Linked DNA regions of Homo sapiens. The protein of the gene in region 2 binds, or shares a complex with, the protein of the main gene of each other region. Each region holds a gene or a part of one and is shown on either strand. Other genes may lie near its edges.

Region 1 (4,317 bases), on a different chromosome or scaffold from region 2:
AAATATGGAAGAAAAAATATTAAAAAAAAAATAGCCTCAAATTCTCAAAGATTGACCTGAGAAAACTCTAAAGTTATTGCCTTATCTAAGTGACTGTAAGTAGTAAGCTTCATACCCTTGATGTGATGAAAAAGAATATGAATACGAAATACTTTTAAAAACTTATTGATAATTATATTTGGAGATTATTTTTCATTTTAATTTGCCAGGGAAGATTTGCTATCCAAGGCATATCCATTATTGATTTGTCATATAGGAACTTGGTGAATTGGAATAGAAGTAAGAATAACCAGTTTATTGAAAGTAATTAGAGTTGCTATATTCTGCATATAATCACTTTTTAGTAGATTTTTAGATTAATCTGTTACTACTAAAGTTTATTTTTAGAAAATTCAACATGAAATCATTTTATGGCAAACAAATTAAAGACTGCTGTCATATTTGTTTTGATTAAGAGGTTTTGTGTTTCTTTAATAAAAAATTCACTTTTTATAAAAGTGAATAAATTTATACTATAAAAAAATTGTTCCCATTCACATATAAAAAGCAAATGTCTTTTCTAACTTGCCCATCTAGCAAATAGGCAAGAAAATATTTATAGTTAAAAACTTGAGAAATTTGTTTTCTACACTGAAATAGTAAGAAATCACTTGGTCTCCATTGTTTGTGTTATATTACTTCTATGTGTCCTGATAGTATTATAAACCATCTGTCATCCTGTTGAAAAGCAATACTAAGCAACAGCAAGCCATTAAAATGAAATGCCAGACACATAGAACATGCTTTCTTGCTTGTACTTCCTAAGTGTTGGTCTTTTAATTACTAAAGGTGGGTTTTCTTTTGTGAAGTTTTTTGAAAGATCATTTAACCATATGGCAGACAGTTTTATGTTTAATAGCAAGAAAAGGAAAAAAAATTAGGTCTTTCATAACTGAAAATTAAAGGTTTACTTCTTGACTAACTTTTTCTCTCATTGCTGGTATATATTCCTCTAGGAATAAATGGTTTATGTAGTTTTTCTTCTCTGGATAACTTCATAAGATAGTTAATATGTTACTGTAAGAAAACTTCCTATCAATTTTCAGAGTATGTGGACAAATATCTGGATTCCTTCTCTTATAAATCGAATATCTCAGAACTCTATTTTTGTTACTTTTCACATTGATTAAAAATGTATGCATGCAGACAATATTGAAGGCTACCTTGATTTCAAGAGCTAAAAATGTTTTATCAACTATTTCAGAGTAAAGTTCTAAATTATAACTGGATATATTTTAGGTATAATAACTACCATTTTTTAAGTAGGATGTTATTTTGTAAAATTTTATCTTTTACCTATATGTGAATGTAATGCTTTTGTGAATCTTCTTAAGAGTATAAAGGTAGAAAAGGTGTCAATAAGAAGTTCAATTCAAAATTAATTTGAATACGTACATTTGTGCCTAATATGAAAGTGAAAAAATATATTCTTGTGTGAACAAGAGCAATATGTATTTATATAGTGGCATTGGTACCATTGTGAGCTTCTGATTAGCCAGGAAAGTTAATCAGAGAAGTTGAAGTGTTATACCCTTATGAAATATATCAGAGAATGAGATCAGTCCTACCCAAAATGTCACTGTGCAGCCTAATGAGGCAATTGATAAAATCCTTATTAAAGGAGCAGGAGACTCTTACATGATAGTTTAACCGGAATCATGGGCAAATTGTGAAACTAAAATCATGAGAACTTTTTAACACATCATAAAAATTGTACACTTCCAAGTAATTAACTTTGCATATATTTTGTACTCCTGTAACTGTTGCTCAAAATTTAGGAGGACATTTTTTTTTAATGGGTTTAGAATCTATACAGCTGTCTTCTTTCTCTCACACAGTCACTCAGTAAATAAATATTGACTGAATCTCTTCATCTTGGATATGTTCTCCTGAATATTCTGGGTATGGGCATTTTTGCTATTAAGAGTGAATTAAATTTTTGAAATGATCCCTAGTTATTTGGAGAAAAGTCTAAAAGAATTAGATGTTTAACTAAGGTCGATAATACTTTGTTGGGTAAAAACTATGTTAAAGCACTAAATCTGGTTTTCAGATATAGCTTAGAATTGAATCTAAAAGCAATTCCCAAAAAGGAATTTCATATATTTTCTTTTGGAATCATTAGAACAAGAATATGGTATCAAAAATTTTCTGCTTTGCAAATGATAATACCCACTAGATACAGATAAGTTTTGTTCTGTGTGGTTTTTCAGATCAGCTTCATAAGAACCTAATTTGGTGGTGTGATTTAAATTTCCCAATTCATAACTTGGGATGTTTATACAGGTACTGATTAAACTTGGCTCTAATGTAATTATTTACTTTATTTTTTTAGACATCCACAGTTATTTCAGGAAATTCTTCTAGTGCCAGCGTTTCCTCGTCAGTAACTAGTGGCTTAACTGGATGGGCAGCTTTTGCAGCCAAAACTTCCTCTGCTGGTCCTTCAACAGCAAAATTGAGTTCAACAACACAAAACAATACTGGGAAACCTGCTACTTCGTCAGCTAACCAGAAACCTGTGGGTTTGACTGGTCTGGCAACATCATCCAAAGGTGGAATAGGTTCCAAAATAGGTTCCAATAACAGCACTACGCCCACTGTACCTTTAAAACCACCTCCACCTCTAACCTTGGGTAAAACTGGCCTTAGTCGCTCAGTTAGTTGTGACAATGTCAGCAAAGTAGGTCTTCCTAGTCCAAGTAGTTTAGTTCCAGGAAGCAGCAGCCAACTAAGTGGGAATGGAAATAGTGGAACATCAGGACCTAGTGGAAGTACTACCAGCAAAACTACTTCAGAATCCAGCAGCTCTCCCTCAGCATCCCTTAAAGGCCCAACTTCACAAGAATCACAGCTCAATGCTATGAAGCGATTACAGATGGTCAAGAAGAAAGCTGCCCAAAAGAAACTCAAGAAGTAATGTGGCCAAGTAGGTTTTTGTATCATATTAGCCTAAAGATGAAAGGCTTATTATTATGATATAATCTGTAATACACTGTAATTTAATAAAAGTCTTCATAATCAAATTTCTATTGTTTCTTACCTTAAAATGCTAAATATTATATAACAAAACTTGGAAACTTTCATTTTAAATCAATCTTCAACATTTTTATTCTAATGATTTCCATAGTGTGTGAAAACAATGATTAGAATGACTGGTTCTCAATGAGATCTTCAGAAGATTGAAAGCATCTGTGAATTTAAGGAAAAAGAAATAGTTCATCTTCTAGCAAAGCCCCAAGAGTTGATCCTGATGAATGAGGTGCCTTATGTGGCGGCAGGGACGACCCAACATAGTTTTCTATTTTCCTCCCCGTATTCTGGGTGTTCATTTTCTGTGCTAGCCCCATTTCAACTGACTCTCCCTCTCCCTCCCAATTATTTCATCTTTTTCAAAATTATTTTTTCATTATTGATTTCTCATATCAATGGATTTTCCTAATTGATTTATCATACTTCATATTATATCTTTACCTTTTTTATCACCTCATTTCAATTATTTAAGGGTATATCTTTTTCCAATAAATTGTGAACTCTCCTGGTGCTTAATACAATATTTTTTCTCACATTGCTCACTTTTCCTACATTGCCAATGTAATACATGCACATAGTACGTAATAAATGTTGAATTTTGATTCATCTTGGTTATGCACATTCCTGATAAGTTTTGAAGAAAAATACCATTTCACAAAGGTCTTTGCAGATGGAAATATATGACTTGTTCACACACTGATGGCTTCTTCCTATACCATGAAAGAAAAGGCTATCTTACTTAGTGCTCAAAATGTTATAGCACTTTACCTAATTTTAGCTAACTTTGTATACAATAAGCTCCTATATAATGATTAATTCTTGAGATTGTTTTGTACATTGTTAACCCATTTATGCCAGAGGTTGCAAATTTTTTTGGTGAAAAATCAGACCTGATGATGACCTTGAACAGTAGGATATAAATAACTCTATAAGCCGAGCATTGCAATAATGGAACACTAGGCATAAGTGGGTTAAGTCAGAAAATGTGGAAGGTCTGCGTTGTTGTCTTACTTGCAAGCTAACAAATTAACCAGCAATTGTTGTACATGTATATTCTGAGAGAAGATAGGAAGCCCTCTGCATCAGAGAAACAGTTTATTATTCACAGCAAAAAAACTGGATATCCAACAAATTCACACATTCACAAGACTATGAACAGCCTGTTCCATCAAACTTGATTTGTGCTACTAAATCTTCACTCTACAAATCTCTAATCTCAAACTGTCTTCCTTAATCCCTAGGTTT
Region 2 (8,754 bases):
AAGGCTACATAGCTAATATGTGAGGGGATGAGGAGCCTGAAATTCAGTCTGGCTTAGATTTAGGCTTTTAACCTCGAGTGTTGTACTACCTTTTAAAATTACAGTTTTATGATTATAGTTGTCTCTCAGTATCTGTGAGGGATTGGCTCCAGGCTCACCTGTGGACACCAAAAGTCACAGATGCTCAAGTCCCTCATATAAAATGGCATAGTATTTGCATATAACCTACACACATTCTCTTGTATACTTTAAACCATTTCTAGGTTACTTAATATGTATATACTTTTATACTGTATTGTTTAAGGAATAATGTCAAGGAAAAAAGAGTCTGTATATATGTTCAGTACAGATGCAACGATCCATTTTTTTTTCCTAACGTTTTCAGTCTGTGGTTGATTGAATTCACAGAATACGGAATCCATAGATATGTAGGGCCGACTATATTTATTTTTAAGGGTGCACAATAGTTTTTGTTGTATTATTTCCCAAATCTCTAGAAACACTTTGTAAGGTGGATAAGTGTATATTCTTATAGAACCATATGCTTTAGAGGACTTGATTACTTCAAAATAGTGTATCATAGTAGGTAAAACCAATAATGTGCATTTTATTAAATACATGATTTAGTTTGTGAAAGATAACTTTTTAACAAAAGTACTTAAAATCACTTATGTATTCTGTTTTGATGCAGGAATATTATAGCATTTGGCTATAAATAATCTTTCTAAATCATCCCTAATATAATTAGGAGATTAATTTCTTGAGCTTTAAAAATCATGACATTTTATAGTTCTAACAGATAAGTTGTGTTGAATGTCTAGCACACAGTGCCTGGCAAGTAGAAGGACAAAAAAGAACAAACACTTCGAACAGGAACTGTTACATATGTTGACTCATTTACGTTTCATAGCAACCCTGAAGATTTAGCCAAGCCAGATAGGTGTTAAATATCAGGGCTGGGATTTGATTTCAGTTTGACACCAGTGCTTATACACTTTCTAATATGTCAATGATTATCATCCTTTTTCTGGCTCTATCCGATTCACAAATGCTAGACACTCTTGCTAGTGATATTTTTCATCGTATAAAGTACTTCTCAGTCTCTCCTTACAATTGAAAGTTTTTTTTAACTTTCAACTACCACATCCATAATAAATATTAGATTGTTTTTTCCTCCTGCTTATGTTTCCTTCAGAGCTTTTTTTCAGCTCAGCATATGATAATAATAGTAATGATTAATAATTTGTACCCAATGGTTTTATAAAGTGCTTTATGTGTATTAACTCATTTAATCCCATGACAACCCTGTAAGAGTAGGTATTGTTATTATCCCCATTTTACAAATGAGAAACTAAGCCACAGAGAGCCAGAGAGCTTATTTATAATCTGATCTAGAATCATATAACTAGTGAGTGGTTGAGCAGCTAATTACTCAAAAGTAGAAATCTTGCATTTTCCTTGAGTGTTTTTCACTTACTACCCATGTTTTATCAGAGCTACCTCTAGAATGTGTCTTCTGTCCATTTATTCCAAACCTAGTTTCTCCCAGTGGTACCAAGGAAGACCAGTATCTTATCCTTCTTGTCTTGGGGAGTTATTATGGCCTCTAATCCTTTTTAACTACTTCAAACGGCCTTTCATCCCACTGACAAACATTTTACTGAAACATAAATACGATTGTGTTACTTCCTTATTGAGGAAAAGAAGGGGAAATAATTTTTTGGAGAAAATTTTAAGACAGACTATACATGGAACCATAAGTTTTTAATAAGCTTAATATTGAATGATGTTTTCTTTTTTCCTATAGCCCTTGAAGAAAGCTGTTAGGATGATGGGAGCACCTAACCTAATAGCAGACAGTATGGAATATGGACTTAGTTACAGTGTCATTTCATACCTCAAAAAACTGAGTCAACAGGTAATATCAAGAAATAGAGTGAGCCATTAAGTATTTTGAATGGTTTTGGCTAGGATGGTTAAACAGGTTAAAAGCTAGTTCTTGATGGTTCTAATGGAATTCCATTATATTAATATATTACATTTTAGAGCCATATATTACATAATTCTGTCTCACATCCATGGTGTGCTATGTTTTGAAACATTAATTTGAAAATTATATAATAATTCCTAATTTATGAAAATGGCTTCATGAGTGTGGTCCTAGACTTGCTATATGTGAACATTATTTATCTTTTGAGAAATTTAGATTAGAAAGTCATTTTTCCTTAAAAAAGAAAAAAAAAACTCTTTATGTTTTGAAACCTGCAGATTTTTCTTTCAGAATGGGAGTTTCTTTGAAATGTTTGTAGAAAACACTGAATTTTGTCATTCTGGCCATAAGTCACATTAATAAATACTATAGTAGTCAAGCAGTATATAGTTTAACTGACTGTGAAATTATTAATGTCCTATGAAATACATTATTTCTCCAGTACTTCTGACATTGCTACCTTAACTACAAATCAAAAGGCAGTTTGGGAGGAGTCAAAACATTGCTTCTTGCTTTCCAGGGAAGAACTGCATAATTATTTGCCATATTGATGTGCTAGTAAAAATGTCTTACATAATGATGATTTTAAAAAAATAATTTACCGTCACCCCTGAATTGGGAATACACATTTTTGTTTAGTGTGCATTTATATTTCATGGTTTAGGTATAGTGGGTATTAATAAATAAAATAATAAATTGAAATTGTGTTTGTCCTGCTCCAAAAGTTTAGAGTTGTAATGATTTAAAATCATAAGACATTGTTGTTTAAACTATGTTTAATTTACCCAATACTTGACATAAACTATGCTACTTGAGTTTTTAACTTCTTATATACTTAAAAAATATATATTTAATTTATAGAAGATCATAACCATTAGTATCTGATTTATTAATTTAGATTTTATCAAGATAATTCTGACTTATTTTTACTTTAGGCCAAAATAGAATCTGATCGAGTCATTGGATCTGTAGGCAAAAAAGTAGTACAGGAGACTGGAATAAAAGTCCGGAGCCGATCACATGGTTTATCAATGGCATATAGGAAAGATTTTCAACAACTCCTCCAGGGAATTTCAGAGGATGTCCCTCACAGACTGCTAGACCTTAATATGAAGGAATACACTGGGTTCCAAGTTGCTTTGCTGAATAAGGTAATAATCATGAATTTAGTGCTACTCTAGTTATGTTCTGTTATGTTACTGGATAAATCACATTTTCTGTTAACTCTGACATTCAGTTTATCCAGACTTTAAAGAGTACTTCTGTACTCTTGTAGACTAATGATCATTATACTGTCACTGCTAGAATTAAAACAGTGTACATGGTGTGTGAATGAATGGATAGATTGATGAAGAGTAAACTAACTTGTTTATTTTATAGATGAGAAAACAGAGGTTTAGAAATTGCTTTAAGTTGCAGTAGTGGATGGTAGAATTCACTATAGTTTTGTACTTAAACTGATGACCCTATTAGACCCACAGCATGATCCAAAAATGCTTTGTGAGTACTCATGGTTACAGATATCTTTATCCCAGCAGCCTTTTTGTAGAAATAGGCAAGCTGATTCTAAAATTTATATGGAAATGTAAAGGTCCTGGAATAGCCAAAACAATTTTAGAAGAATAAAGTTGGAAGACTTATATCATCTGATTTTAAAACTTATTGTAAAACTTACTACAGTGATCCATGCAGTGTGGTGCCATCATAAGGATAAACATAGGAGATTAGTGGAACAGAATTGAGTCTAGATGTAGGCCCTCACACACACAGTCAATTCTTAACAAAGATATTAAAATAAGGTAGTGGATAAGAAGACAGTCTTTTAAACAAATGGAACAATTGGATATCCATATGCAAAATAATGAATTTGACCATTACCTCATATTATTTGAAGTGGTCGTGATCTTAAATGTAAGAACAAAAACTATAAACTTCTAGAAGAAAACATAGGAAAAAATCTTTGTGATGTTGAGTTAGCAAAGATTTCTAAAAGCACATAGCAAAAATGTTGATAAATTGAATTTCATTAAAATAAAAAATAAACTTTGCTCTTTAAAAGAAACATTAAAAATGAAGAGGGAAGCTACAGCTTGGGAGAAAAGCACATATCAAATAAAGGACTTGTATCAAAATATATAAAGAATTCATATAACTCAATAATAAAAGGACAAACATGGGCAAAATATTTGAACAGACATTTCACCAAAGAAAATATGCAAATACAAATAAGAACATGAAGTAACACTCAGCCTTATCAGCCATTAGGGAAATGCAAATTAAAACCATAACGAGATACTACTTCATAACTGCTAGAATGAATAAAATTTAAAAGACAAAAAATACAGGGATTGATGAGAATGTGGAGCAACCCTCCTAACATTACTGATAGAAAATAGTTGATATTTTCTTAAGAAGTGTAAACATAAATTTGCTGTACAATCAGTCATTCTACTTGTAGGCTTAGCATGCCAACATGGCAGCATTTTTCATAATAGCCAAAAACTTGTAACAGTCCAAGTGCCCATCAGCTGGTGAATAGATAAAGAAGATGTGGTGTGTCCATATAATAGACTACTACTCTGGAATAAAAAGGAACAAACTACTGATACATGAATAATGTCAATGAATCTCAAAAACATCATGCTAATTGAAAGAAGCCAAGTACAAAAGATTAGACGTTGCAAAATTCCATTTATAAAATGGAGCATAGAAAGAAAGCAAGTCACGTGGTTGCCTGGGGATAGGAATAGTGATTGACTGCAAGTGGGTACAACAAACTTGGGGATGGTGGAAATGGATTATGATGATGGTTTCACAACTATAAATTTACTAACATTCATCAAACTATATACTTAAAATAGGTGATTTTATGGTATATAAATTACACATCAAAGCTGTTTTTTAAAAAACTTCAGTTTTTAAAATTTGGAGATTGATTTTTACTTAAATGAGTTTACTTCTTTTATCCAGAATATATAATAAAATCTTTAGAGTTAGATGGTGAATTGAGATTGTTTGGTTGAGCTCACTACCAAATTTTCATCTTTTGGCCCTGAACCGGTACATTAAGATTATATCATATGTCTTTATTTTATTTTTTTTAAGCTAACCAGTTTATATATCTTATTTCCAAACCTATGCTGCAGGCTAGAGATTTTAGTCTCTTGTAATTCTATGTTTGACAATAAATTTTGTCCTCGAATGTTGTTTAATAGGATTTGAAGCCACAGACATTTAGAAATGCTTATGACATACCAAGACGAAATCTTTTGGATCACTTAACAAGAATGAGATCTAATCTTTTGAAGAGCACTCGCAGATTTCTGAAAGGACAGGACGAAGGTTAGAACATAGTTTCAATACTGGTATTTTTAATTTTTTTTCTTTATAGTCTGAAAAAGCATAGCATGGTGATGTAAATTTCAAAGAATTATTACAGTACTATAACATTCTTATTGTAAGTTCAAACAAATGAAGTAAAAGGTGAATCATCCCTGATTCTGTACCTTTCTTCCTACCATCACTGTTGCCCCAAATTCTCTTCCCTAGAGGTAACAACCTTTCTTAACAGTTTAGTTTCCTTTTATAGCTTTTCTCATGCATTCATGCGCGCACGCGCGCGCACACACACACACACACACACACACACACACACCCACTTATCAAACTGTATACTTAAAATAAGTGATTTTTCTTATCTCAATCATTTTCTTGAGATAATACCAGTATCTGATGGTTTAACTCTGGATGGCCAGTTTCATGACATTTTCTGATAATTCCTTCTTCACCTTTATCCATGGCACCTACTATAAATCAAGTCAGATGAGACTTTAAACGTTTGCCACCTCTGATTTAAGAGTTCTAACAATAATTTTATATAAAAGAGTTAGCTATGCGACTTTTTTTTTTTTTTACCATACTGTACTTCCATTTTCTACAAATTCTACTATAATTAAATTCTGTTTATTTGGAATAGCGCAGAAGAGAAGAGATACATCTTTCACGGTAAGATCACACATACTTTTTTTTTTTTTTTTTGAGTCAGAGCCTTGCTCTGTCGCCCAGGCTGGAGTGCAGTGGTGTGATCTCGGCTCACTGCAACCTCCGCATCCTGGGTTCAAGCGATTCTCCTCCTTAGCCTCCCTAGTAGCTGGGATTACAGGCACGTGCCACCATGCCCTGCTAATTTTTGTATTTTTAATAGAGATGGGATTTTGCCATGTTGGCCAGGCTGGTCTCATTCCTTACCTCAAGTGATCCGGATGTCTGCCTCAGCCTCCCGAAGTGCTGGGATTACAGGCATGAGCCACTGCGCCTGGCCACACATACTTTCTGTATGTGTGGAATTAATGGCAATGTATGTATGTGTGAAATTAATGGCAATTTTTGTTTTGTTTAGATGATGAGATCAGTATTTTAAATTTTATTTTAAAATATTTTGTCGCAGTGGTTATAATTGCACCAAACAAATTTAGAATATGTTGGTAAAGAAGACTGTCTAGAATAACACTAGGTAGCATTCATATATAAGGAAACATTATTTGAGAACTAATTGGAGGTTAACTTTTTTTGCTGTTGTATTCTTTTTGAAAGATCAAGTGCACAGTGTTCCTATAGCACAAATGGGGAACTACCAGGAATACCTCAAGCAAGTACCTTCTCCACTAAGAGAACTTGATCCTGATCAGCCACGAAGGTTGCATACATTTGGCAACCCCTTTAAGCTGGATAAGAAGGTAATTTTGAAATGTTCTATTATGTAATTTGTTTATGGTAGGCACTGTCAGTTTTATAGTTCTTAATTTAACTGAAGTAAGCTGAAGCTATTTTCCTGGTAGAGTATCTAATAAATATGAACAGAATATAGTTACCTTCATTGGAATTGACACTGGTTGTGCCATTTAAACATTGTTTGTAAATTCAAGAAAGTTGTATTCTTTTTTGCTAAAGGGTATGATGATAGATGAAGCAGATGAATTTGTGGCTGGACCTCAAAATAAACATAAACGACCCGGAGAACCAAATATGCAAGGGATCCCTAAAAGACGTCGGTGTATGTCTCCACTACTAAGAGGCAGACAGCAGAATCCTGTTGTAAACAATCATATTGGGGGAAAAGGACCACCTGCACCTACAACTCAAGCACAGCCAGATCTTATTAAACCTCTTCCTCTTCATAAAAGTAAGAATTGTTTTTTTCTTAAACATTATTTGCTGCCTTTTGGTTCCTTTTCAAGGAAGATATTTTTGTTATAGATTATAGAAGGAAATTGATTAGTAGTACAATGAGTGAATGAATGTATAGAAAATTTGTTTAAATGAGCATGTAATCATTTTTGTATGTCTTTTTAATGAACATTTGAACATTTCTTATTTATGATGCTTTATTAGCTATTATGTTCTAACATACATTTGCAAATCTTTCAAAATAATACTTTCGAAAGGAGCATTATCACTATCCACAGAAAGATGGTTTTCAATTTCAGTTGAAGTCAACTAATTATTAAATATGTATGCTATTTTGGATAATGCTGTGCTTTGAGGTATACCACTGAAGACAGGAGTGATCTCTGCCCTCATTTATAATCAGCAAGGAAGGTCAGTCATTGAACAGATATTGGAAGTATGTTGAATGTTACGAAAAAGATGTCAAGTATATTCTGGAAGCATTTGGCAAGAGGATTTAAGTCAATGAAGTCAAGGCACTTAACTGAAGAAGTTAATGCTTAAGCCAAAAGCTGTGCCGTTTGCTTATGCTGGAGCAATAGTATGTGCAGAGGCATAAAGAGAAAGACATTAAGGGAATTTAAAAAATTCCAGTATAGCAAGGGTGTTGGGAATGAGGTAAGGTGAGAACTGAAAGATAGAAGCCAGATTATGGAAGGTCTTGGAAGCTATTTTCAACTTTATTCTAAGGACAGTGAGAATCCACTGAAAGGCTTAAAATGATGGTGACCTAATCTGATTAGCATTTTATGAAGACCAGGTTGACTGTAATGTGTGTGGACTATTATCAGAGAGGAGCAAGAATGAATGTAGGGAAACCCTAATGAATTAATGGACTTATCAATTATATATAGTGGTCATACTTACAGCATGTTAACTGAAGGGAAACAAAATATTATATGACTCCTGATGGAAGTATCCAATACTGCCTTTGAAGTTGTCTTACCCAAAAAAAAAAAAACCAAACACCAAAATTGAACATCAATGTAATCAAACCAATTTATAGGAAATACAGGGGACAGAGAAACATGTGGGATACCGTTAGTAAAATCCAGATTGTAGAAAACTCTACAGGACAAAGAATCTGTTGGGTTTTTTTCCTGGAAAAAAAATATTTTTTCCAGAAAAATAAAAGGGGTACGGAAGGATTTTACAGATTCAAATGTAGTTTAAGAGATATATAAGCCAGTTGCAATGTATAGGCCTTAACTGTACTCAGAATCAAACAAAATCAAACTTTTCCACAAACAGAAAACATGTTGGAGAGTATGGACACTGACTGTATATTTGATGTTATTAAATAATTGTGCATGCACAGGAATCAGTTGGGAAACCCGGGGAACAGATGCTGCTGACCTGACAGTGGGGTTTCAAGAAGAATATGTATTTGAGAAATACCTGGACATACCACTGAAGGACTTGGTTACTGGTCAGATGTTGGGACCAGAGCAGGGGAGGAGTCAGACGTATGTCTTGAGAGACACTGGGTGGGTGGAAGAAGAAATGATAAATGAGTTTAGTTTAGAAGTGCATATTAG
Region 3 (9,752 bases), on a different chromosome or scaffold from region 2:
CAGACATTTCCCAGCAAGCCAGGCCACCTGCAGCTTTACTTTCCACTGAATCGTGGCTCCGTCTGGCGGCTTCTTTCTCACTGTGGACCGCAGCACAGTGGCCCTCTCTCCGCACCCACCCCAGCTCCAGTCTCCAGCATGCCCTTCTTCCCACTTTTCCTCCCTCTTTCCATGGGTGCTCGGCTCACAACCTTCCTCCAGACGAGTGCCTGACCCTCCCACATCCTCTGAGGAGCACCAGGGCCAGCACACACCTTTCCTATCGTCGTGTTTGCCACTGTTGGATCGGAGGTTTTCTCATTTTCATTCTGATTCTTCTCTGTCCCAACAGTTTTTTAGGACTGTGTTTTTAAATATCCACAAACGGCCAGGTGCAGTGGCTAGCACCTGTAATCCCACCACTTTGGGAGGCTGAGGCAGGTGGATCACCTGAGGTCAGGAAATCGAGACCAGCCTGGCCAATACAGTGAAACCCTGTCTCTACTAGAAATACACAAATTAGCCAGGCGTGGTGGTGCATGCCTGTAATCCCAGCTGCTTGGGAGGCTAAGGCAGGAGAATCATGTGAACCCGGGAGGCGGAGGCTGAAGTGAGCCGAGATCGTGCCACTGCATTCCAGCCTGGGGAACACAGCGAGACTCTGTCTCAAAAAAAAATAAATAAATAAATAAATAATAAATAATAAGTAAATACATATCCACACACATGTGGACAGAGGCATTGTGATCTACCTTAACTGCGCCCGGGACAGAGACTTGGAATAAATTTCCTGATGCCGAGACAAGCTGGGGGACAAGTGGGCTGCCAGCATGGAGGGACAGCCTGGGACATTTACCACAAATGGCTGGATGCAGCCATCTCTCTGTTTTGCTGAGAATAATACTATAAAGTGATCTACCACTCAGAATACGCTTTTCATAACCACGTCTCCTCTCATCTTCAAAACCTCCTTTCTACAGGAGGTAGTGCTAAAGATAAATAAAGCACCGAGCCGCCGGCGGCCGAGAGCCCGGGCCAGGATGAGGCCTGTGGTCTCTGTCTTCAATCCCCACCGGCACCAGCTGCCCAGGGACACGCCTCATGGGAGGTCTGAGGCTCGACCTCCTAAAGCAGTCCCCCAGCTGTGCCATCCTGGGCCGTTTGCCCCCAGGGCTCCCTGATGCCAACTGAGTCCAGCACAAACACTGCCCACAGCGCCCAGCCTCAGCTCTCATGAGCGTGTGCTGCCCAGGCCAGGCCAGGCCTCCATTCCCTGGGCACAGTCCATTCTCTGCTTGGCATCTCCCTTTCCTGCCTGCCCCGGTTTCATCGCCTGTGCTTCCAGGCCCAAGCCCATACTGCAACTCCCTGCCAGGCCTCCTCCCTTCCAGGGCCGTCGGGGACTCACTCACAGGCTTGCACTGCAGCAGCCTGGTCCCTCCCTGAGGGCAAGGCCACAGCCCACAAGTCCCCTGGGTCCTGTCTGGCACAAAACTCAGTAACCAGAGGTGGCGCGGCTTGAACAGACACCTCACTACCAAAGTCATCAGGACACTTGTTCTTTTTGACTCCTACAAAGAAATTACCCAAAAGAGATGCTCCCACAGAAACAAAACACTGCAGACCATGAGGCTTGCTGGGGCTGGTGCGATAGCTGCCAGAGCGACTCCCAGGGAGTCACGGAGCCTTGAGAAATGGTCGTTGGGAAAATGGCGCAGAGGGGCAGGGGCGATTCTAGGCACACAGTTAAAGGCATTTCTGCGAGAACGGGACAGTGGTGAAGCTTACATTCCCCCGTTGATGTCCTTACTGTTCTGCTGCTTTTCAACTGAAAACAGGGAGGGGATCAACTCTTCTCTGTTGGTAACCAGGAGGGAAGGAGGAACCAAGTACACATCGCCTCCGCTCAGGTTGAGAGAGGAACGCACCAGGATGGGCAACCTTGAGAACAGACACCTGGGGTGTCGTCACGCCCGGTTTACCCCCAGGGCTCAGACAGTGCCCGTCACAAAGGGGGCGTCCAACAGACACATGAGACAAACAACTCAATAAGGGAGTGACCCGGTTCTCAAAGGGCAGCCACTGGCAGTGCAGGACGCAGATGCACACACGGGATAAGGGCATCTACGTGAGAAGCACTTCCAAGAACAAGCCACAAACATCCGCTCTCCCAAAGGACCTCGGCCATACGGGCAGCACTAGGCCTGGAGGGGGCCTTCCCTGAACACCTGATGGACGGCATGAGCTGAGGGGTGTTCTCGGGGGATGTCCACAGACTCATTACCTTCAATTGGCACCACAGATGGCTCTTTAATCGACGGAGAAATGGCTCGTTTTTCTGCCACTGCAGCCTCAGCCAGGCGCCCCAGGGCACTCAGAGGGGGTGTGGAGGAGAGTTTGGGGCGTTTGGTGAGACCGGTGAGGGCCGAGGCACTGGACAACGCGGCCGCCGCATCCCGCTTGCGCTCAGAAGGCAGGCCGGAAGGGGCTGGCTTCAGCAGGGTGGACGCCGTTTTCGATTCATTGGCCTGACCCTTTGAGCCCAGAGCAATGAAGTCTCCTGGGGGAGGGTGCCCTGCAGAGAAAGGAGAGAGAAAACCGGGCACATTTGCAACACCCAAGATGGAAAAAGACTGACTCTAACCTCCTGTTATGTCAGAGGGGATTAAACAAGGGTCAGAGGAGGCAAGGAAGAAGCCAGAGCTCACTCAGCAGCCTACAGCAGAGCTGGGACCAGCAGGATACGCACAGGTGATGGTGGACAGTCACGTAGCGCTAACCACAAACCAGGCCATCTCTGGTCTATCCAAATTAGTGTGCTTAGTAACCCCCGCCCCGAGTTTCCGCAATAGGTGCTATTACTCTAACTTTACAAGAGAGAAAGGGACACAGAGAGGTTAAGCGACGTGCCCAGCGTCACACAGCAGGCGAGTGGCAAAGTCCGGAGGATCTGAGCCGACAGTTCAGCCGCAGACCCCGTGCTACGCTACACTGTGCTGCCTCCCGCCTCCTGGCTGGGGAGACCTTCCGCTACTGTCGGCCGCCTTGCAGCTCAGCCTGAAACGAGATCACCGGGGTCCCGAAGGAAGTCGCCACTGTCCCAAGCCTCCCAGGGACTCTCAGAGCCGCTGAGGACCGAGAGCAGTGTTTCCAGACCGAATTCCTGGAAACAGCCGCGGCTGCGGAACAACCAAGCCCAACGCAGGATCCGCGGCAGCTGAGATCCCCAAAGACCCCCAAAGACCCCCAAAGACCCCCGGGCTGCAGAGCGAGGAGGGAGACGCACCTGAGGGTTTGGCCGCGGCGCTGGGCCGGCGCACCGTGGTGGGCTTGGCCCGGTTCATCCTGCCCCGTCCCTCGCGGCTCCCGGCGGCTGCGGCGTCACCTGCGGAGGAGCCAGCGTGCGGTCATTCCTTCACTCATTCGCTCGTTCGCTCGCTCATTCGCTCCCTTGCCGCACGGGGCTTGGGCCTGGGACCCGGGGACAGTGGTCCCGCGCCCGCCCGGCGGGGCGATGCTGCAGGAGCTGCAGGGACCCCGCCTCCCAGCCGCCCGGGAGCGGCTCAGTCGGGCGGCAGCAGGCGACGCGGACGCCGGGCTGGAGGCGGCAGAACCAGAAGGGACGGCCCAGAGGCCGGGAGCGGTAGCCGGGAGAACCAGGCGCTCGCCCGGCAATGAGGAAGCGCCCAGGCCGCGGCTCACTTACCTCTGGCCCATCGCGACCGGAGCGCCGCCGCCGCCACCCGGCCACCCCGGAATCGGAAACCGATCTCACCGCCCTCGAGGACCCGACTTCCGGAACAACCGGAAGGAAAACAGTGCGGCGGGAAGCGGGCCCAGAAGGAGGCGCGAGAGGCCCGCGGCGCCGGCCTGATGCCTGCAGCGCCCCATGGCGGCGGGAGGCGGGCTGGCCGGCGCCGCGCGCATGTGGTCCGGTCCAGGTGGGTCGGCGGCGCGGGGCAGGCGCTGGCCTCTCCATTCACAGGTGGTGCTGGCGTTGCGAAGGGACGCACTCCAGGACGCACGGCGGGGAGGAGTGGCGTCAGGGATCCGCGGATGAGTCAAGTGGCAGGTTCTGCACGTCCCGGAGAGCGGGGGCGGCCGGGGCGCAGGCACTGGCGAGGGGGCGCAGCCCGGGGGGCTCCCGGGGAGAGACCCTGTCTCAAATAATAATAATAATAATAATAATAGCTTTATTGAGATAGAACTCGTGTTCCACAAAGTTCACCCTTTTCTTTTTTCTTTTTTTTTTTGGCACGGAGTCTCGCTCTGTCGCCCAGGCTGGAATGCAGTGGCGCGACCTCGGCTTATTGCAACCTCCACCTCCCAGGTTCAAGCGATTCTCCTGCCTCAGTCTCCCGAGTAGCTGGGATTACAGGCGCCCGCCACCATGTCTGGCTAATTTTTTTGTGTTTTTAGTAGAGACGGGGTTTCACCATGTTGGCCAGGCTGGTCTCGAACTCCTGACCTCAGGTGGTCCGCCCGCCTTGGCCTCCCAAAGTGCTGGAATTACTGCGCCCGCCCCGCCCCCACGCCTTTTTTTTTTTTTTTTTAATGGAAACACTGATGGGAACAAAACTCAAAAGACACAAAAGATCATACAGTTGCCAGGTGTGATGCTCATGCCTGTAATCTCAGCACTTTGGGAGACCAAGGCAGGAGGATCGGTTGAGTTCGAGACCAGCCTGAGCAACATAGCAAGACCCCCATCTCTACAAAAAAATAAAAATTAGCTGGGCATGGTGGCATGAACCTCTAATCCCAGCCCTTTGGGAGGCCAAAGTGGGAGTCTGAGACCAGCCTGGGCAACATAGTGAGACCCTATCTCTACAAACAAAAATCAAGAATAAATTAGCCAGGCATGGTGGTGCATGCCTACGGTCCCAGCTACTGAGGAGGCTGAGGTAGGAGGATCTCTTCAGCTTGGGAGGTCAAGGCTGCAGTAAGCTATGATGGTGCCACTACGCTGCAGCCGGCCGACAGAGCGAGACCCTGTCTAAAAAAAAATAAAAATAAAAGGTGGGGGAATCATCCAGTCAAAGGGTCGAAGGTCTCCCCTGACCCCTGAGCAGCTGGTCCCCTCCCCTGGAGTCAGCCTGTGTTCTGATTTGTGCCTGTGTTCCCGGCTTTTCCGTGTGCGTTCAGGCAGCCACCCGTGTGCCTCCCTCTGCCTTGTCACCCTGCAGGTAGCGCACGGCTCCTCTTTTCTGCACCTGGCTTTTGCCACTTAACCACATCTTGGAGATCTGTTCCCAGCAGGGCACTGACTCGAACGCTGCCCCGCCACCGAGGGAGTCCTGAGCACCGCCTGCCCGGTGTGTCCCATCTCCTCATCCAGGGACCGCAAGGCAGAGCTGGTCTCCCTGTGCCCCTGAAGTTGGGTGTGGCCATTTGACTGTGGCCTCAGTGAGGCTCATGGCCCCAGGCTGCAGCCTGAGAACTGCTGTGTGACCCGCCACGGTCTCTTTCCACTCCTGTGGGCACCAGCTGGGTCCCCGCAGGACCCCAAGGGCTCCAGGGCCCTGCACCCTGCGCTGTGTGGGCAGCGAGTCCGGAAGGAGACGTCCGTGGTGCCCATGGGAGGAGAGGCCGGTCAGGCGCGGATCCCTGCCGGACGCCAGGCGGGGGCTGTGCGGCTTCATCCCTCTACAGTTTCTCAATCTGTCCCTCAGGGTAACTCTCTAAGGGGAGGGGAGATCCGATGGGGTAATGCTTCCTCCTCCTGTCACCTGAATGGGAGCACCCTGCACAGAGCTTCCTCTGCCCCGCCACCTGCCTCTCCTCATCCTCTGACCAGCATCACCGCCCCTGCATGCGGGGCCTGTGCCTTCGGCAAATGCCCTCACCCGGGCCCAGGCCAGAACCTCAGGGTCGACCTTGAGAACAACTACCTCCTCCTCCCCCTCCCCCTCCCCCTCCCCCTCCTCCTCCCCCTCCTCCCCTTCCTTCTTCTCCCCCTCCTCCCCCTCCCCCCTCCTCTCCTCCTCCCCCTCCCCCTCCCCTCCTTCCCCTCCCCCTCCTCCCCCTCCCCCCTCCCCTTCGTTCCCCTTCTTCTCCTCCTCCCCCTCCTCCCCTCCTCCCCCTCCTCCTCCTCCTCCTCCTCCTCCTCCTGTCAACCTTGACCACCTCTTCCCCCTTCTCTCTCCTCCTGCTCCTCGTCTTCCTCGTTCTCTAAAAACTCAGGAGTCAACCTTGACCACCTCCTCCTCCCTCTTCTCTTTCTCCTCCGTCTCCTTCCCCTCTTCCTCTTCCTCCCCCTCCTCTACCTCTTTGCCTTCCTCCTCCCTCTCCCCGCCTCTTTTTGAAAACAGCTTTTTTGAGTTATGATTGACGTCTGATAAACTGCAGGTGTGTAAAGGGTGTAAAGGGTGCACACTGATGCGTGTTGACATTCACACGTACCTGTGGCCCCATCCCCCATCCCTTTCAACCCTGTAACGAACATTCCCAAACCACCCCTGACTTGTCCCCAGGCCGCCAGGGCGCCACTTTCTGTCCCTGGAGAGGCGCTGTTTGCTCTTCTGGAGTCTGTGTGAATGAAAGCACACAGTGCACGCTCCCTGGCCAGCTGCTCGGCGTCATTATTCTTTTTTTTTTTTTGAGATGGAATCTCGTTCTGTCACCCAGGCTGGAGTGCAGTGGCGCGATCTCCGTTCACTGCAACCTCTGCCTCCTGGGTTCACGCCATTCTCCTGCCTCAGCCTCCCGAGTAGCTGGGACTACAGGCGCTGGCCACCACGCCCGGCTAATTTTTTTTTTTTTTTGTATTTTTAGTAGAGGCGGGATTTCACCGTGTTAGCCACAACGGTCTTGATCTCCTGACCTCGTGATCCTCCCGCCTCGGCTTCCCAAAGTGCTGGGATTACAGGCGTGAGCCACCGCGCCCGGCCTGGCATCATTATTCTGAGACTTACCCCAGCGTTGCAGGCATCGGTGGCTTCTGTCAGCTGCTGAGTAGCACCCGCCAGATGGATTCCAGATTCCAAGGATGGCTTCTCCACTGATGGCCCGGGCAGGACCACAGGCGTTCCGTCATCCTGGGGGGGTGTGCAGGGTCTGCCCTGTGCTCTTCATCGGCGTCTCCCTGATGAGTAATGATGAGCGTTTTCTCATCTTTTTTTGTCATCCGTGTATCTGCATTATTGGTGTCTGTTCAAATTGTTTGCTCACTTTTTGAAAATATTTTTTATGGCCAGGCGCGATGGCTCACGCCTGTAATCCCAGCACTTTGGGAAGCCGAGGCGGGTGGATCACCTGAGGTCAGGAGTTCAAGACCAGCCTGCCCAACATGGTGGAACCCGGTCTCTACAAAAATACAAAAATTAGCCGGGCATGGTAGCAGACACCTGTAATCCAGCTACTTGGGAGGCTGAGGCAGGAGAATCACTTGAACGTGGGAGGCGGAGGTTGCAGTGAACCAAGATCATGCCATTGCCCTCCAGCCTGGGCGACAAGAGTGAGACTCTGTCTCAAAAAAAAAAAAATTATTAGAAATTTAATTTTTAGGCCGGGTGCCGTGGCTTTTAATCCCAGCACTTTGGGAGGCTGAGGCAGGCGGATCACCTGAGATCAGGAGTTTGAGACCAGCTTGGCCAACATAGTAAACCCCATGTCTACTAAAAATACAAAAATTAGCCAGGCGTGGTGGCGGGTGCCTTTAGTCCCAGCTACTTGGGAGGCTGAGGCAGGAGAATCACTTGAACCCAGGAGGTGGAGGTGGCAGTGAGCCAAGATCGTACCACTGCACTCCAGTCTGGCCAACAGAGCGAGATTCCATCTCAAAAAAAACAAAAAAACAAAAAGATATAATCAAATGTTCCTCCCCTGCTCAGAATTCTCCAAAGACTCTGCTTATCACCCGAACAGTAAAATGAACACCTGTGGTTGTTTCCCACAGCAGCTCTTAACAAAGCACCACAGACTCGGTGGCTTAAAGCCACAGAAATGTCCTCTCTTGCAGTTCTGGAGCCCAGAAGTCTGAAGTCAAAGTGTGGGCAGGGCTGACTCCCTCGGAGGGCTCTAGGGGAGGACGCTGCCTACCTCGACCAGCTCCTGGGGACTCCAGGGGTCCTCGGCTCGTGGCCACATCCCTCCAGCCTCTGCCTCTGACTCCATGTGGCCGTCTTCTCTCTGTGTCTCTGTGCCTCGTGAGGACATCTGTTAAGGGATTTAGGGCCCACCCAGATCAAGGATGATCTCATCTCAAGATCTTTACCTTCATTAGGCCTGTGCGGTGGCTCACGCCTGTCATCCCAGCACTTGGGGAGGTTGAGGCGGGCGGATTGCTTGAGGTCAGGAGTTCGAGACCAGCCTGGCCAACATGGCGAAACCTTGCCTTTACTAAAAATAGAAAAAAATTATCCAAGGCCGGGCGCAGTGGCTCACACCTGTAATCCCAGCACTTTGGGAGGCTGAGGCGGGCGGATCACGAGGTCAGGAGATCGAGACCATCCTGGATAACACAGTGAAACCCCATCTCTACTAAAAATACAAAAAAATAGCCGGGCGTGGTGGCAGGTGCCTGTAGTCCCAGCTACTCCGGAGGCTGAGGCACGAGAATCACTTGAACCTGAGAGATGGAGGCTGCAGCGAGCCAAGATCGCACCATTGCACTCCAGCCTAGGCGACAGAGCAAGACTCCATCTCAAAAAAAATAAAATAAAAAAATAAGTTTATATCTGCAAAGACCTTGTTTGCAAATAAGCTCCCATCCTGTGGCTCCGGTGGACGTGGGCTATGGGGCCACTGTTCGCCCCGTCCCAGCCCCACGCCGAGGACTGCCGGGTCCTGCAGGGTCTACATCTCCGTCTCACCTCCCCCGATGCCGCCCCACCCCGCACCTCAGCCTTCTCACTGTTTCCGGAAGGTGCCTGCCTTTCCATGCGCTGTTTCCTGTGCCCAGAAACCCCCCAGCTGGTCCTGGGACTCCCTGTCCACCCCATTCTGGTCTTTGCTCAAGTGGCCTCCTTCTCTGGTCAGTCACTGATGCCCCAGTCCCCTGCACCTGGATGTCACCTTCATGTCTTTTTTTTTTTTTTTTTTTTTTGAGACGGAGTCTCACTCTGCCACCCAGGCTGGAGTGCAGTGGTTCAATCTCAGACCACTGCAACCTCCGCCTCTGGGGTTCAAGCGATTCTCCTGCCTCAGCCTCCCAAGTAGCTGGGATTACAGGCACCTGCCACCACGCCTGGCTTTTTTTTTTTTTTTTCTGAGAGTCTTGCTCTGTCGCCCAGGCTGGAGTGCAGTGGTGTGATCTCTGCCCATTGCAACCTCCACCTCCTGGGTTCAAGCAATTCTGCCTCAGCCCCCATCAGGAGCTGGGATTGCAGGCGCCTGCCACCATGCCCAGCTAATTTTTGTATTTTTAGTAGACATGGGGTTTCACCATGCTGGCCAGGCTGGTCTCAAACCCCTGACCTCAGGTGATCTGCCTGCCTCGGCCTCCCAAAGTGCTGGGATTACAGGCGTGAGCCACCACGTTCAGCCACATCCAGCTAATTTTTATATTTTTAGTAGAGATGGGGTTTTGCCATGTTGGCCAGGCTGGTCTTGAACTCTTGACCTCCGGTGATCCACCCACCTCGACCTCCCAAAGTGCTGGGATTATAGGCATGAGCCACCGCGCCTGGCCCTTCCTTCATGTCTTTTAAAAAAATGTTTTAGAAACGGGGTCTTGCTCTGTTACCCAGCTGGAATGCAGTGGTGTGATCATGGTTTACTGCAGCCTCAAATTCCTGGGCTCAAGCGATCCTCCTGCCTCAGCCTCCCAAGTA

The links. Proteins that work in one complex are often made in the same cells at the same time.
Region 1: INTS6 (region 2) and INTS12 share a complex: the UniProt entries of both Homo sapiens proteins name them as parts of the integrator complex.
Region 3: INTS6 (region 2) and INTS1 share a complex: the UniProt entries of both Homo sapiens proteins name them as parts of the integrator complex.

The regions. Positions count from the first base shown.
Region 1 is NC_000004.12:105,681,375-105,685,691, reverse strand, and holds the end of INTS12 (integrator complex subunit 12), read left to right. Parts: intron 1-2,374; coding exon 2,375-2,959; 3' UTR 2,960-3,065; downstream 3,066-4,317. UniProt on the Homo sapiens protein: Component of the integrator complex, a multiprotein complex that terminates RNA polymerase II (Pol II) transcription in the promoter-proximal region of genes.
Region 2 is NC_000013.11:51,372,626-51,381,379, reverse strand, and holds part of INTS6 (integrator complex subunit 6), read left to right. Parts: intron 1-1,807; coding exon 1,808-1,918; intron 1,919-2,925; coding exon 2,926-3,141; intron 3,142-5,205; coding exon 5,206-5,332; intron 5,333-6,583; coding exon 6,584-6,726; intron 6,727-6,940; coding exon 6,941-7,172; intron 7,173-8,754. UniProt on the Homo sapiens protein: Component of the integrator complex, a multiprotein complex that terminates RNA polymerase II (Pol II) transcription in the promoter-proximal region of genes.
Region 3 is NC_000007.14:1,500,638-1,510,389, forward strand, and holds the start of INTS1 (integrator complex subunit 1), read right to left. Parts: upstream 3,753-9,752; 5' UTR 3,686-3,752; intron 3,365-3,685; 5' UTR 3,324-3,364; coding exon 3,266-3,323; intron 2,555-3,265; coding exon 2,264-2,554; intron 1-2,263. UniProt on the Homo sapiens protein: Component of the integrator complex, a multiprotein complex that terminates RNA polymerase II (Pol II) transcription in the promoter-proximal region of genes.